2 linked regions of the Homo sapiens genome follow. The protein of the gene in region 2 interacts with the protein of the main gene of each other region in a pairwise test. Each region holds a gene or a part of one and is shown on either strand. Other genes may lie near its edges.

Region 1 (7,027 bases), on a different chromosome or scaffold from region 2:
GGTTTCACTGTGTTAGCCAGGATGGTCTCGATCTCCTGACCTTGTGATCCGCCCGCCTCGGCTTCCCAAAGTGCTGGGATTACAGGTGTGAGCCACTGCGCCCGGCACCATGTGTAGTTTTCAAACATGCATGGATGTGAATTTCATGTCTTCTGGGTCCACACCCAGGAGTGGAGTTACCGGGTCACAGGGTGGCTCTGTGACTCTTGGGGGAGCCCCTGGACTGTTTTCTGTAGAGCTGTCTCAGCTCAGGTTCCTGCCGCTGCCTGTGAGGTTCCGATTTCTCTGCGTACTCGCCCGCACCTGCGACTGTCTGTCTTCTTGACGGACGCCCTGGCTGGTGCGAAGTGGCATCTCACTGCGGTTTGCTTCCACATATTTTTAAACTCACTGAGTGCATGGCCCTGTGGGAGGAGGGGAGGCAGGAAGGCCACTAGAAGCCTGAGCTGTGCCCCCAGCTGGCGCGTGCAGAGGCCGGGCAGGTGGCGGCTGTGGTTGCAGCAGGATTAGTAGGAAGTGAAGAGGTCGCCTTCCCTGGCACCGCATGTGCCTCGAGTTCACCTGGAGGCCCTCGAGAGGGGCGGGTTTGGGGGCTTTGCGCGGGGCTTAGGGAGGGGCTTTCTTTAGCTGGGCGGCCCAGAGGGTGTTCCAGTCGCTTCTGCCTGCCCTGGTGACCCCTGGCTCTCCAGCCCCTCCCCATGTCCTTGCTGGCTGGGCTGGGTCTCCGTCGGGAAAGGTGGGGGCCGCTGGTGGGGTGGGGAGCTGGAGACTCTGACTACAGATCCCTGTGATCGAGGGGTGAAAGGTGGGGGTGACTGGTGGGGGGGGCAGCTGGGGACTGACTACAGATCCCTGTGATCGAGGGGTGAAAGGTGGGGGCGGCTGGTGGGGTGGGGAGTTGGGGACTCTGACTACAGATCCCTGTGATTGAGGGGTGAAAGGTGGGGGCAGCTGGTGGGGTGGGGAGTTGGGGACTCTGACTACAGATCCCTGTGATCGACGGGTGAAAGGTGGGGGCGGCTGGTTGGGGGGGGCAGCTGGGGACTGACTACAGATCCCTGTGATCGAGGGGTGAAAGGTGGGGGCGGCTGGTGGGGTGGGGAGTTGGGGACTCTGACTACAGATCGCTGTGATCGAGGGGTGAAAGGTGGGGGCCGCTGGTGGGGTGGGGAGCTGGGGACTCTGACTGCAGATCCCTGTGATCGAGGGGTGAAACGTGGGGGCCGCTGGTGGGGTGGGGAGCTGGGGACTCTGACTGCAGATCCCTGTGATCGAGGGGTGAAAGGTGGGGGCCGCTGGTGGGGTAGGGAGCTGGGGACTCTGACTGCAGATCCCTGTGATCGAGGGGTGAAAGGTGGGGGCCGCTGGTGGGGTGGGGAGTTGGGGACTCTGACTACAGATCCCTGTGATCGAGGGGTGAAAGGTGGGGGCCGCTGGTGGGGTGGGGAGCTGGGGACTCTGACTGCAGATCTCTGTGATTGAGGGGTGGGAGCTTCTGTCCTGGAGCCTCCGAGCCACCACATTGGCAGCTGGCCTGTCGGGGGGACACAGCATGGGAAGGCCAGATGCTCCTCCCTCCATCCCAGGGAACAGCCCAGCCTGAGCCTGGGCCATGTGCCTGCGTGTGAGGTAGGGGCACAGAGGGGCACGGGCTGGCCCCCGGTTGGCAGAAGTGGGGGATCTTGGGCTCAGCGGGGTCTGGGGGAGCGGGGGCTCCAGGTTGCAGAGGCCTGGGGGGAGTCTCAGGGGCCCAGAGGGGTCTGGGAGGGGACTCCAGGTTGCAAAGGCTGGTGGGGGCAGGGGGCTCTCAGGCCCAGTGGGGTCTGGGAGGGCCCCGGGTTGCTGTCATCACCAGTTGTCCGAGAGTGATCAGCCCAGTGTCCATGGTGCCCAGCGGGAGAGATCCTTGATTAAACATCCCACCAGTTTTCTGGTTCTGAAACCGAGAGTGTGAAAAATGCATCTAATGGCCAGGCATCGTGTCGCTATGACAGCGGCCAAGGGGCTGCATGTCCAGGTGTGGCTGGTCCTCCGGGGAAGGGGACAGGCTCCATCCAGCTGCTGTGCTGGTCCAGGCCCAGGGCCTTTGGTCTCCAGCACTGGGCGCCGCTGTTCTGGGAGCTGGAGCTCGTGGAGAGACGATCATTCCAGAGGGGGCCGCAGCAGAGGAGGAGGCTCCTGGGATGGCTGGGACCCAGGGTCGCCTGGCTTCCTCCTGGTTACCGGACCCTCCCCGACAGGGGGCTCCCTTTGCTGTGTCTGTGAGATGGGCAACACAGGGTGTCCCAGTGTCCCCAGGCTGCCATCCTCTCTCTCTGCGTGCCAGTCCCTGGGAATCTGAGCAGGGCCAGTGGCCGGGCCCCCTGACTGCTGTAGTCCAAGGGGAAGGGTCCCTCTCGCTTCACCCTGTCCTGGGTCTCCCCAGGTGAGTGGCATCAAGGCGCTGTACGAGTCGGAGCTGGCCGATGCCCGGAGAGTCCTGGATGAGACGGCTCGAGAGCGTGCCCGGCTGCAGATAGAGATTGGGAAGCTGAGGGCAGAGTTGGACGAGGTCAACAAGAGGTGAGTGGTCACGGCTGGGCACGACGTCACCCTGATCCTGGCACCACGGGGTGGACGGGGGCAGGTGGGCGCTGGGCTCGTGCGGGGCATGCTCTGATACGGGCACAGCCTGGAGCTCACAGCTCCCATCCTCTCTCCCCCACCAGTGGCTGCCACGTCACTTTTTCTGTTCTGAGGAAAGTGATAGATGCTCACATCGGACAGCAGGAAGCGCAGGGCAGCTTAAGCTCACAAGTAAAATCTCCCGCGAGCCTCCCCAGAGAGGGCTTCCTGGTCAGCCTGGCCTGTCTCCTTAGTGTGCACACGCGCTTGCACATGCTTACCTAGACCCCGGGCGGCACCCAGTGGACACCGTGAGACGCGTTTGACCTCAGGCCCCATCGTAGGCATTTCCCTGTGGTTGGATGTTCTTGGTGCCGGGGTTTTGTCCCAGCTGTTGGGACGCTCGGGTGTGTGGTGTGTGACCAGGGTGCTCATGGGTTGTTGGGCTGCCCCAGGGTTGGCTGCAAAGTCCTTCTGGGTGACAACTGTGTCCATCGGCAGAAACGATCTCCCCTCTCAGCCTGGCAGTGAGTCTTGCCTGATTCTGGGCGTGGGATGTGGTTGGGCGGCAATTTAAACAGAACGATGATGACAAAAGGAATATTTATTCAGAGGAGCCAGGAGGCCAATGAAACACTGAGCTCAAGGCTTTTCTTGATGTGAGGCTCCAGCTAGAGCGAGGTCTCTGGTGCCCTGCGTGTGGACACTGTCTTCCGTGGTCTCCGGCCACCGGCATTCAGGCACCTGCAGGTGCCTCGGATTTCCTCAGGCTGGGGTGGGTCAGGGTCTTCCCACACTGCTCATTCTCCCAGAGCCACGCAGGCCTGGCTCAGCATGGAGGGATCTGCTGGCAGGAGGGGTGGCACCTCGGCCACCTGGTACGGGGGTGACAGCAGCCAGTGGCTTGAGAATCCACGTTGTCCCTGAGTTGGAGTGTGGCCAGAGGAATGACCGGGGACCCTGTGTCCAACAGTGCCGGGGCCCCCATGCGTGGTTGCAGGTGACCTCTCCATCCGACGCCCTCCTCCTTCCTGGGCTGGCGCTGCTCCCGTGGAGAGCTGACTTCCCTTCCCCAACAGGAGACCCTCCAGGTCAGCCCAGGGACCACCGCCCGCCTGCCCGGGGCCTGGGGCTCCAGGAGGGACCATTTGTGCCCTGATGGTGGCCATGAGCCGGGGACCCTGGGGCCAGGCACCAGCCAGGACAGGCTGCCCACTCTCAGCACATCCCACACAGCACAGGTGCACCCCGGGACCTGCTCAGGCAGCAGCTCTGTGCTGTCTACCTCCAGCACCCACCGTGTTTAATAAGCAGGTTCATCAGTGGAGCCATGCAGGCTGTGGGATGACTAGAGCTTGGTCAGGGGTGCACGGAGCTCTGAAATGTCAGAACTACACCGTGCAGATGGGACAGAGCTGCTGCTGGCCCCGCACCAGGCGCCTCTCAACTGTTCACTTTAAGATGTTGAAATGTACAGGATGTGAATTTCACCTCAAATTAAAACATTAAAAAAAGAAAATGGTACACAGTGCCCGCCCTAGGTGTTGAGGAATTCCCAGTTCACAATCTCCTGAGCAGTGCGTGGCATCTACAGAGAGGCCCGTCTTTTCCTTTTCATTAAGACAGGGTCTCTGTTGCCTAGGCTGGAGCTCAGTGGCACAATCATAGCTCGCTGCAGCCTCGAACTCCCAGGCTCAGGTGATCCTGCCTCAGCCCCACCCCGAGTAGCTGGGACCCCAGGCATGCACCACTACACCCAACTAATTTTTTTTATTTTTTATTTATTTCCTTTTGAGACATAGTCTTGCTCTGTCACCCAGGCTGGAGTGCAGTGGTGCAATCTCGGCTCACTGCAACATCCACCTCCCAAATTCAAACGATTCTCCTGCCTCAGCCTCCTGAATAGTTGGGATTAGAGGCTCACACCACCTTGCCCAGCTAATTTTTTTACCAAGTTGGCCAGGCTGGTCTCAAACTCCTGGACTTAAGCGATCCACCCGCCTTGGCCTCCCAGAGTGCTGGGATTACAGATGTAAACCACCATGCCTGGCCTAATTTTTTTATTATTTGTAGAGATGAGGTCTCGCTATGTTGCTCAAGCTGGTCTTCAACTCCCAGGCTAAAGTGATCCTCCCACCTCAGCCTCCCAAAGCACTGGGTATAGGTATGAGCCACTGGGCCAAGCCTAATGTTTTTCTTATCCTAACAAATTTATCTCCAAAACCCCACAATGAGAGAAACACTGGGAGCAGCGTGCAGGACCTAACAAGCCAGAGCCTGCCACAAAACCCCGGGCACCCAGCTGAAGATTCTAACTCAGCACCTGGCGCTTAGGAAACGGGTCTGAGCCCTGGGAGCCCGCACCCTGCCTTCTGGGTGTGCCCTGCAGTCCTGCGGAACCCTGTGGTTTAGACCGAGTTGCTGAGGAGCTTCCCGGATTCCCCGATCTCCGCTCCAGTCCTCTGAGCTGGTCTGCAGCCTGCCTCTTCCACCTCACCCCTGGGCCTTTGCACTGCTGCTCGCCTGCCTGGAAGGCTCTTTCAGCAGCGGTGGCCCTGGCTCCTCCAGCACTGCTCCTTCAGGTCTCTGCCCCCAGGGTTGTCTCCCAGCCCCACTCCAGCCCTGCCCCCAGGCAACCTCCTGTCTGGTAGGCAGCCTGTGTCGCTGATGCCTCCCTCCGCAAGGACGTCCCGCAGTGTAAGGCAAGGGTTCTAGATGCACCTCTGGTGTGAGAGCGGTGCCTTCCACACAGCGGGCACTCGGGATTTGCCCAACAGATTCCACCTTCCCCCAAACCCCTGCAAAAATCCCCAGCAGGGCCGCAGGGCTCGCAGCCCTCTGAGCGAAAGGGCCTGGCCTGTGTGGCATGTGCTCAGAGATGCGGGATCTGCACCCCAGACCCTGCTGGAGATCTGCTCCATGTGGGGAAGTAGAGCTTAGTGTCCCTGAGGGCTGCGGACAGGGGTGCATCAGCCTTGTGGCCGAAGTCTCTGGCCTTCACGCCTCTCAAAAGCAAGCAGATGCCACACCTCTAGTGTGTGGAGAGCCCTGGCTACACCAGGTCCAGCGCCAGAGCGGCTGGCCGCCCTGCCCTGGCGGGACACAACCGGAGCCAGACCCGGGATTCAGGGTACCCGGCACGGATGCTTTTACCTGGCAGGTGGCCTTAGACCTGGTTGTCTGACCCCCGACCAGGGACCCCTCACACGAGAGACCTGTTTACACAGTGGCTGCCCCGTAGCTCGTGTCTGACCTGTGTCCAGGGTATGCCTGTCCGACCATCGCTCTGGCACTGGGATCCCAGCCTGGGGCAGCTCCTGGTTCTTCTGACAGAAGGCGCAAATTCAGCACAGCGATAGGAAACAAGTTTGAAGATTTATTACGGATCCTAGGCAGGGAGGGCACTGTGAGCTGGGAAGGCAGCCCTCCCTCCCCGGGTCACACAAGGAAGGAAGGAAGAGTCCCACAGAGAGTGAGAGCTTGGCAGCTAGTGAGAGAGAGAGGGAGATGGGTGGATGATGGATGGATGGCTGGATGGGTGGACGGATGATGGATGGATGAGTAGATGGATGGATGATGGATAGATAATGGATAGATAGATGATGGATGGATGAGTGGATAGATGGATGGATGGATGGATGAGTAGATGGATGAATGGATAGATGATTGAGGGATGGATGGAAGGATGGATGGATGGAGATGATGGATAGATGATGGATGGATGAGTAGATGGATGGATGGATGATGGGTGGATGGATAGATGGACAGATGAGTGGATGGATGGATGGATGATGGGTGGATGGATGGATGGATGATGGGTAGATGGATAGACAGTAATAGATAGAGCAATAGATAGATATAGCTATCTGTAAGGCTGGGTGCGGTGGCTCATGCCTGTAATCCCAGCACTTTGGGAGGCCAAGGCGGACAGATCACTTGAGGATGGGAGTTCAAGACCAGGCTAACCAACATGGAGAAACCCCGTCTCTACTAAAAATACAAAATTATCTGGGCGTGCTGGCACTTGCCTGTAATCTCAGCTACTTGGGAGGCTGAGGGAGGAGAATCGCTTGAACCCGGGAGGTGGAGGTTGCAGTGAACCGAGATCGCACCATTGCACTCCAGCCTGGGCAACAAGAGCGAAACTCCATCTCAAAAAAAAAAAAAAAGATACAGCCATCTGTAGAATTGATATATACGGACATAGATTATATAGATAAATACAGTTATTGATGGAGATATACTTAGACAGACATACGGTCACTTTCAGCTATGGGTCACTTTCATTTCTTGGGCAAATGCCTAGGTGGTCTTTTGAAAGGCCCTGGGGGACCAGGCGCAGTGGTTCACGCCTGTAATCCCAGCACTTTGGAGGCCGAGGCGGGCAGATCACCTGAGGTTGGGAGTTCGAGACCAGCCTGGC
Region 2 (7,027 bases):
AAGCAGTTCTCCTGCTTCAGCCTCCTGAGTAGCTGGGATTACAGGTTCCCGCCACCATGCCCAGCTAGTTTTTGAATTCTTAGTAGAGACCAGGTTTCACCATGTTGGCCAAGCTGGTCTCGAACTCCTGACCTCAGGTGATCCACCCGCCTTGGCCTCCCAGATTGCTGGGATTACAGGCATGAGCTACCGCACCTGGCAATAAATTGCTTTTGATTTTTTTTATTTTGCTTTTTCCTGGAGTATATTAAAGCAGTCTTTGACATAGTGTTTCACACATTAAAAAGTCAGCATTTTAGCATATATCTCTGAAAGATAAGTGCTATTCCAGTGACAATGCCAATATCACACCTAATAAAATTAATAATTTATTTGTATCTAATTCATGTTTAAATTTCTCTAGTTTCAGAAATGTTTCGTTTATGATTATGTTGTTCAAATCAGGATCCAGACAGGATCCACATATCCGGTTTGATTTTTGGTTGTTTTACTCTCTCAAGTCTGTAGCTGTTACCACTGTAACTTTTTCTCTTCCCTCCATTTATTTGGTGAAGAAACCAGGTCATTACAGAATTTCCCAACATTCTGGATTTGTTAGGTTGCTTCTTTATGTCATTTAATTAGCTTCTCTATACGCTGCATTTTCTGTAGAGTGGGTTAGATCTGTAGTGAGGCTATGCAGTAGACCTTTCTGTGATAGAAATTTTTCATACCTGTGCTATCCGTTACAGTAGCCACTAGCTATTGAATACTTCGATGGTGACTAGTGAGGCTGAGAAACTCTGTTTTGCTTTGTTGTTGTTGTTGTTTTTGTTTTTGTTTGTTTGTTTTTTGAGATGGAGTTTCATTCTTTTTGCCAAGGTTGGTGTGATCTCAGCTCCCCACAACCTCTGCCTCCCAAGTTCAAGCGATTCTCCTGCCTCAGCCTCCTGAGTAGCTGGGATTACAGGCATGTGCCACCACGCCCGGCTAATTTTGTATTTTTAGTAGAGACGGGGTTTCTCCGTGTTGGTCAGGCAGGTCTCGAACTCCCGACCTCAGGTGATCCACCCGCCTCAGCCTCCCAAAATGCTGGGATTACAGGCGTGAGCCACTGCGCCTGGCGGAAACTATGTTTTAATTTTAATTTAAATTAAATTTCAATGACCATATGTGGCTAGTGGCCTACCATATTGGACGGCACAGATCCAGAGGGTTGGTCAGATCCATGTCCAGTTTCTTTCACAAGAATACTTAAATGATATAGCGGCCTTCCTGTTACATCGTTTTAGGAGGTATAGAATGTCTTTCTGGCGATGCTAAAATTAGTAATTGATTTAGATTTTGAAAGATTAATCCATCTGTTATAAAGATCCACATTGTCCTTTCATTTAATGGTTCTAACAGCCATTGTCATATGATTATTGCCTAGGTCTATTATTTTGAGGTTTTTTTTATGTATTGAATTTATGATCAGTTACAGTCATCATTCTTTTTTGATGTTCACATTGTGCCATCTGTAGCCATTAGGAATTACTAAGTTGGTTCCTGTATTTTTTAATTCCTTCCCCCATTTATCTTTGATAGTTTCTTGTTTTCTGGAATAGTAAGACGTCCCAGGCTCATGTATACTTCCTGCGTCATGCCTGGAATCAGCCATGTTTCTAAGGAACCGTGATCCTTTTAATAGATAATACTATTTGGAAGCAACAATTTGGATGCTGACATGTTCATTCCTACTGGTTGTCATTGTTTCTGGGTCTTTTCAGTAGGTAGTGCTAGGTAAATCATGAATTAATGGTGATATTTCAAATTTATAAATACAGGCTAATTTTGGGTTATGTTATACTTGTATCATTTTTATCTTATGCTGAATATCTTGGTTCTTCAAATGATGTTGTTACTTATGTAAGTATCACAACATATATGTGTTTCTAAATAATACAGTATTACTACTAACAATAAGACTGTTAAATGCAATTTGGGCTTTTGTTTTCCTTGTCTTTAGGACATATCCCACTAGAATGTAATGTCAAAACACTGTGCTTAAAGTCACTTGAAAGAATTTTTTTGTGTCATACAGCCACCAACTTAATAGTTAGGTTTTTTTGTTCTCTAATGCTAGGATTGCTTTTTCTTTTATTATTTTTTAATTGTGTTGAGAGTATAATGTAGTTTTATGTAGGCAAAATAAGGTAGAGTCAGAATTTTGGCTTCTGTCCTTTTCCCTTCCATCTACAGATAAGCATTTTTATTGTTTTGATTTATATTTTGTTTCTTTTTAAAAATATAAGTAAATATATAGATTTTTATATGCTCCCCTTTTACATAAAATGCAGCCTGCTTTGTACATTTCCATTTTTAACCTAAACCTAGAGATCACTCCATATCGGAACGTAGCCATCTTCCTCATTGCTTTGTACAACTGCATTTTATGTGTTGCATTTTATGGATGTACTGTAATTTATTTAACCACTCTCCATTTGGTGAATATTTGAGTTGTTTTCAGCTGTATGTTGCTATGAATAATGCCAGGATGAACCATGGAGCAGCATTTTGCATGTGTCACTGCATATTTTTTGCCAGTTTATCTTGGGGAAGCGTACCAGTAAAATTGCTAGGTAATTTCACCATTACATTTCTCTGCATATGAGTTGAAGCATTTTGCATTCCCACCAGCAGTGTTTGAAAGTACTGTTCTCAAATGGAGGAATATGAGGCTTTTTTGTTTTGTTTTGTTTTTTAATAAAGTTAGTACGAGTAACCATATTGGTCATGTTTTACTTAAATTGATAGGCCTTCAAGATGGCTTTTAGTTATCTCAGGAGCTTTAGAAATTATCTATTCCCAGACCTGGAGAGATTCTGATTTAATTGGTTATGGTAGTTGGGGGCATTTGCTTTTTTTTTTTTTTTTAAAGCTCTCCTTGATGGTACTGTGCCACAAGGATTGAGAATCTCAGATTATAAAACTACCTTTCCGTCTATTCAAATAGTTGGTAATTTGACTATTAAAAACCACTTACTCTGGCCAGGTGCAGTGGCTCACACCTGTAATCCCCGCACTTTGGGAGGCCCAGGTGGGTGGATCACCTGAGGTCAGGAGACCAGCCTGGCCAACATGGCAAAACCCTGTCTCTACTGAAAATACAAAAAAATCAGCCAAGTGTGCTGGTGCGTGCCTGTAATCCCAGCTACTCAGGAGGGTGAGGCAGGAGAATCACTTGAACCTCGCAGGTGGAGGTTGCGGTGAGTGGAGATTGCACCACTGTACTCCAGCCTGGGCAACAGAGCGAGATTCTGTCTCAAAAAAATAAATAAAATAAAAATTAAAAAGCAGTTACTCTGTGTATGTCTGTAATTTGTTTACAAGTTTCTCTTTTGACAATAATTTTGCATTCAGCAAATACTTCCTAATTGATAGGATGAGGAACCCAGAGATTCAGATTGTGACTTAAAACTCTTATAATATCAATTCCAAATATAGATAAATACAAAACCATGATTTATGAGACTATGTCTGTAACTTGTGGGGTTTTGGTAGTATTACATCCAGCCATTTAGGCATATTTATTGGATGACCACTCCTGTCACAGGATTAAAGTTTAAAAAAAAAATCTGTCTTTAATAGACATTGACTTGGACCTAAAACCATCAGTAATCTAGGTTAAATATTGGCGTGAAAGCAAAAGTGACAACAGAAGGACACTCTACTATAATACTGATCATTGATGGATGTTCTGTAGTTAAAAGAATTTAAAAGAATCATCTGGTAATAGCGACTTCAAAACTGAAAACCTTAAACTACTTGGAATGCGGAATTTCGGGCCCTACAGCTACAGAATCAGAATCTGCATTTAACAGAAGCTTCAAGTGATTGATAGGCACATTACAATTTAAGAAGAACTGATCTAATGGGTTTTAAACCAGTATGTAAGAAATGCTGGATTCTTTAAAAATGATCAGTGGAACATAGAAATTAATCTGAGACTGAGAATTAATCTGAGGCAGCTGTTTTCTGTCTTTCTGTAGTGACATGGATAGCATTGAGATTTGAAAGTGACGTTAGGCTTGCATATTCATTAAAGAGTGACCACAGGGTTTTTGTGGCTACCTAATTTTGTATCTGTTTCCAAGAAAAATTTGACACCTGAGAATTTTTTAGTTCAAATAAGCTATATGTGGGATTATAATTTAAACTGATTCTACTAAAATGATTATAACCATATGAAAATAATAATGTTTATGCTAACAATTACAAAAGTTTGTATTTTTGTTTTAAAAGGAAACTGACTTATAATAGATGACTTTTTTCTAAGTCATGATCAGTCTGCTTTTTGTTTAGACAGAGATGTAGCTCCAATACTAGAGCCAAATAGCACACAGTGAGTCAAAAAGGGAACTGGTGATAGTTGATGTGCTTTTTTTCCCATAATGTTTATAATTTGTGAGCTACTATAGGTGGATTCTTTAGTGTATTTTAGCACTTTTTAAGTGTTTCCTGATGCCTAAATATCAGTTCAATTAATACATTTAGGAATATTTTGAGGACATAGCCTTGTTTGTAAATGCTGGCATTTGGAGACTTCTATTTCATGGCTTCTCAGTGTGCCAGTATGGCCGTTATTAAAGTATTTGATGTTAGAATATGACTTTTTAATGTGTTGATGCTTGAATAGAGCTATTCTCAAGCTGGAATAACTGAGACTGAATGGACAAGTGGATCTTCAAAAGGCGGACCTCTGCAGGCATTAACTAGGGAATCTACAAGAGGGTCAAGAAGAACTCCAAGGAAAAGGGTGATGCAAGGCTTATTCCTTGGGTTTTCAGATTTGTAGGGTTTTAGTATTATTTTATATTTATTGTTTTTGTTTTGTTTTCAAACTAACAGGTGGAAACTTCAGAACATTTTCGTATAGATGGTCCAGTAATTTCAGAGAGTACTCCCATAGCTGAAACTATAATGGCTTCAAGCAACGAATCCTTAGTAAATATGTTTCATAAACTATACAAGTGGTATTCTTTGTAAATTACCCTTTAATTGGAAATGGGGAGGTGGTGAATTTTGGCAAATCTCAAATTTACATGTTTTTTTTTTTTAACAATTTTAAACTGATTTTCCCCATATAGTTCTGAATTTTAGAATTTTCCTATAATATCCAATTTATGTAAAGAAATCTAATTCATTGTACAAGAAAGTATAAGGATATTTTTTGTTAAAATATTTGAAGAATGAGGCTTCATATGTGAGGCACTAAGTTGTGTTTGTAGGCTGTGTTGCTTAAATCTTTACTAAGGGAAAATTTCTAATATTACAGAGATAAAATATCTTTCTTTTCTTTTTAAGTGTCTGTGTTATGTTTGGATAATTCTGAGTCTGAATAATTTGAATCTTGGCAGGTTGTCAATAGGGTGACTGGAAATTTCAAGCATGCATCTCCTATTCTGCCAATCACTGAATTCTCAGACATACCCAGAAGAGCACCAAAGAAACCATTGACAAGAGCTGAAGTAAATGAATACAATTTAGATCGATGCTATCATTGATCTTTCAAAGAGGAAATATAAATATTTGTTTGTTTTTTTTTTTTTTTTTTGGAGTGGGAGGGAGCAGAGCTTTCTTTATTGGGTGGTGTGTGTAAATATGCATAAATTATTTTAAGGACACTTTTATTAGTGAAAACAGAAATTAACTAATATAGTTTGACATGCTAATACTATCCTCTTGCCACTGTATCCCTCTTAAGTTCCAGTTTTCAAGGGAGTGGTCATTTCTGTTCTGCTTATAATATGTTCTGTTTGTCATGGATGCAAGTTTGAAAGTGCTGCTGGGCTATGAGGGAGGCTACACTTTCTTTTGTTGACGGGTCAAATAAGAGACTTTAACATAACTTCATGTGGTGCTGGAATGGGTTAACTCCTGTGTAATTAAGCTTGAAAGTACTAACTGCATGGTGCATTTTAATTTGAATGAATCTTTACAAAAGGAGCCGAAACATTTATTATTTTGTTCTGGACATAAAGGTAAACAGTAAAACAAGCTAAACATTATATTTTTTTTAATTTGGGCATATTGCATTGACTATAATTTTAAAACATATAGTAAAGTTTGCTAAAGGTTCATGTTAAGTATCTTCTGTATTTTATCTTTTACTACAGAATTCTTAATAAATGAAGAAACAGTATACTTTTTTTTTTTTGAAACGGAGTCTTGCTCTGTTGCCCAGGCTGGAGTGCAGTGGCACGGTCTCAGCTCACTGCAACCTCCGCCTCCTGGGTTCAAGCGATTCTCCTGCCTCAGCCTCCTGAGTAGCTGGGATTACGGGTGCCCGCCACCACGCCCAGCTAATTTTTGTATTTTTAGTAGAGATGGGATTTCACTATGTTGGTCAGGCTGGTCTCGAACTCCTGACCTCAGGTGATCCACCCGCCTCAGCCTCCCAAAGTGCTGGGATTACAGGCGTGAGCCACCGTACCCGGCCCAACAATATACTCTTAATAGTAAAAAACAAAATCAATGAGGGAATTAGCATTGCCATGTTAGATTACTGAATTTTTTCCCCCCAGTTATTTAAATGTGTGGCAGTTTTTCACTCCAATAACCACATATATAAGGTATCTTCAAGAAATTTGAAGAGAGCCTTGGAAGCATGTGGATACCTAAATAATAATTTAGAAATGGCAGCTGTAAAATCTATGATAGATTTAAAGGCATTTTGTTCTCTAAAACTTACTATTTATGTTTTAATTATTGCATGTTTACACTAAATTTTAACTTGTGGTTGTTTGTTTGTCTGTTTCTTATTAGGTGGGAGAAAAAACAGAGGAAAGAAGAGTAGAAAGGGATATTCTTAAGGAAATGTTCCCCTATGAAGCATCTACACCAACAGGAATTAGGTATTCAGATACATTTAAACAAGTACTAGTGTATTCTAGTAGGGAATCTTTATTTTTAATTCTTCATCACAAAGTTACTGTACTTCTGCTCAGAATTAAGCTGTTTTTTTGGAGCCAGGTACAATGGTACATGCCTGTAGTCCCAGCTACTC

What was found. The genes of interacting proteins can lie anywhere in the genome.
Region 1: the proteins of TMPO (region 2) and LMNB2 interact in a two-hybrid assay, tested with the Homo sapiens proteins (2 studies listed by BioGRID, with this or other methods).

The regions. Positions count from the first base shown.
Region 1 is NC_000019.10:2,439,939-2,446,965, reverse strand, and holds part of LMNB2 (lamin-B2), read left to right. Parts: intron 1-2,425; coding exon 2,426-2,562; intron 2,563-7,027. UniProt on the Homo sapiens protein: Lamins are intermediate filament proteins that assemble into a filamentous meshwork, and which constitute the major components of the nuclear lamina, a fibrous layer on the nucleoplasmic side of the inner nuclear membrane.
Region 2 is NC_000012.12:98,539,573-98,546,599, forward strand, and holds part of TMPO (thymopoietin), read left to right. Parts: intron 1-4,657; coding exon 4,658-4,777; intron 4,778-4,869; coding exon 4,870-4,965; intron 4,966-5,378; coding exon 5,379-5,489; intron 5,490-6,786; coding exon 6,787-6,875; intron 6,876-7,027. UniProt on the Homo sapiens protein: May help direct the assembly of the nuclear lamina and thereby help maintain the structural organization of the nuclear envelope. Possible receptor for attachment of lamin filaments to the inner nuclear membrane.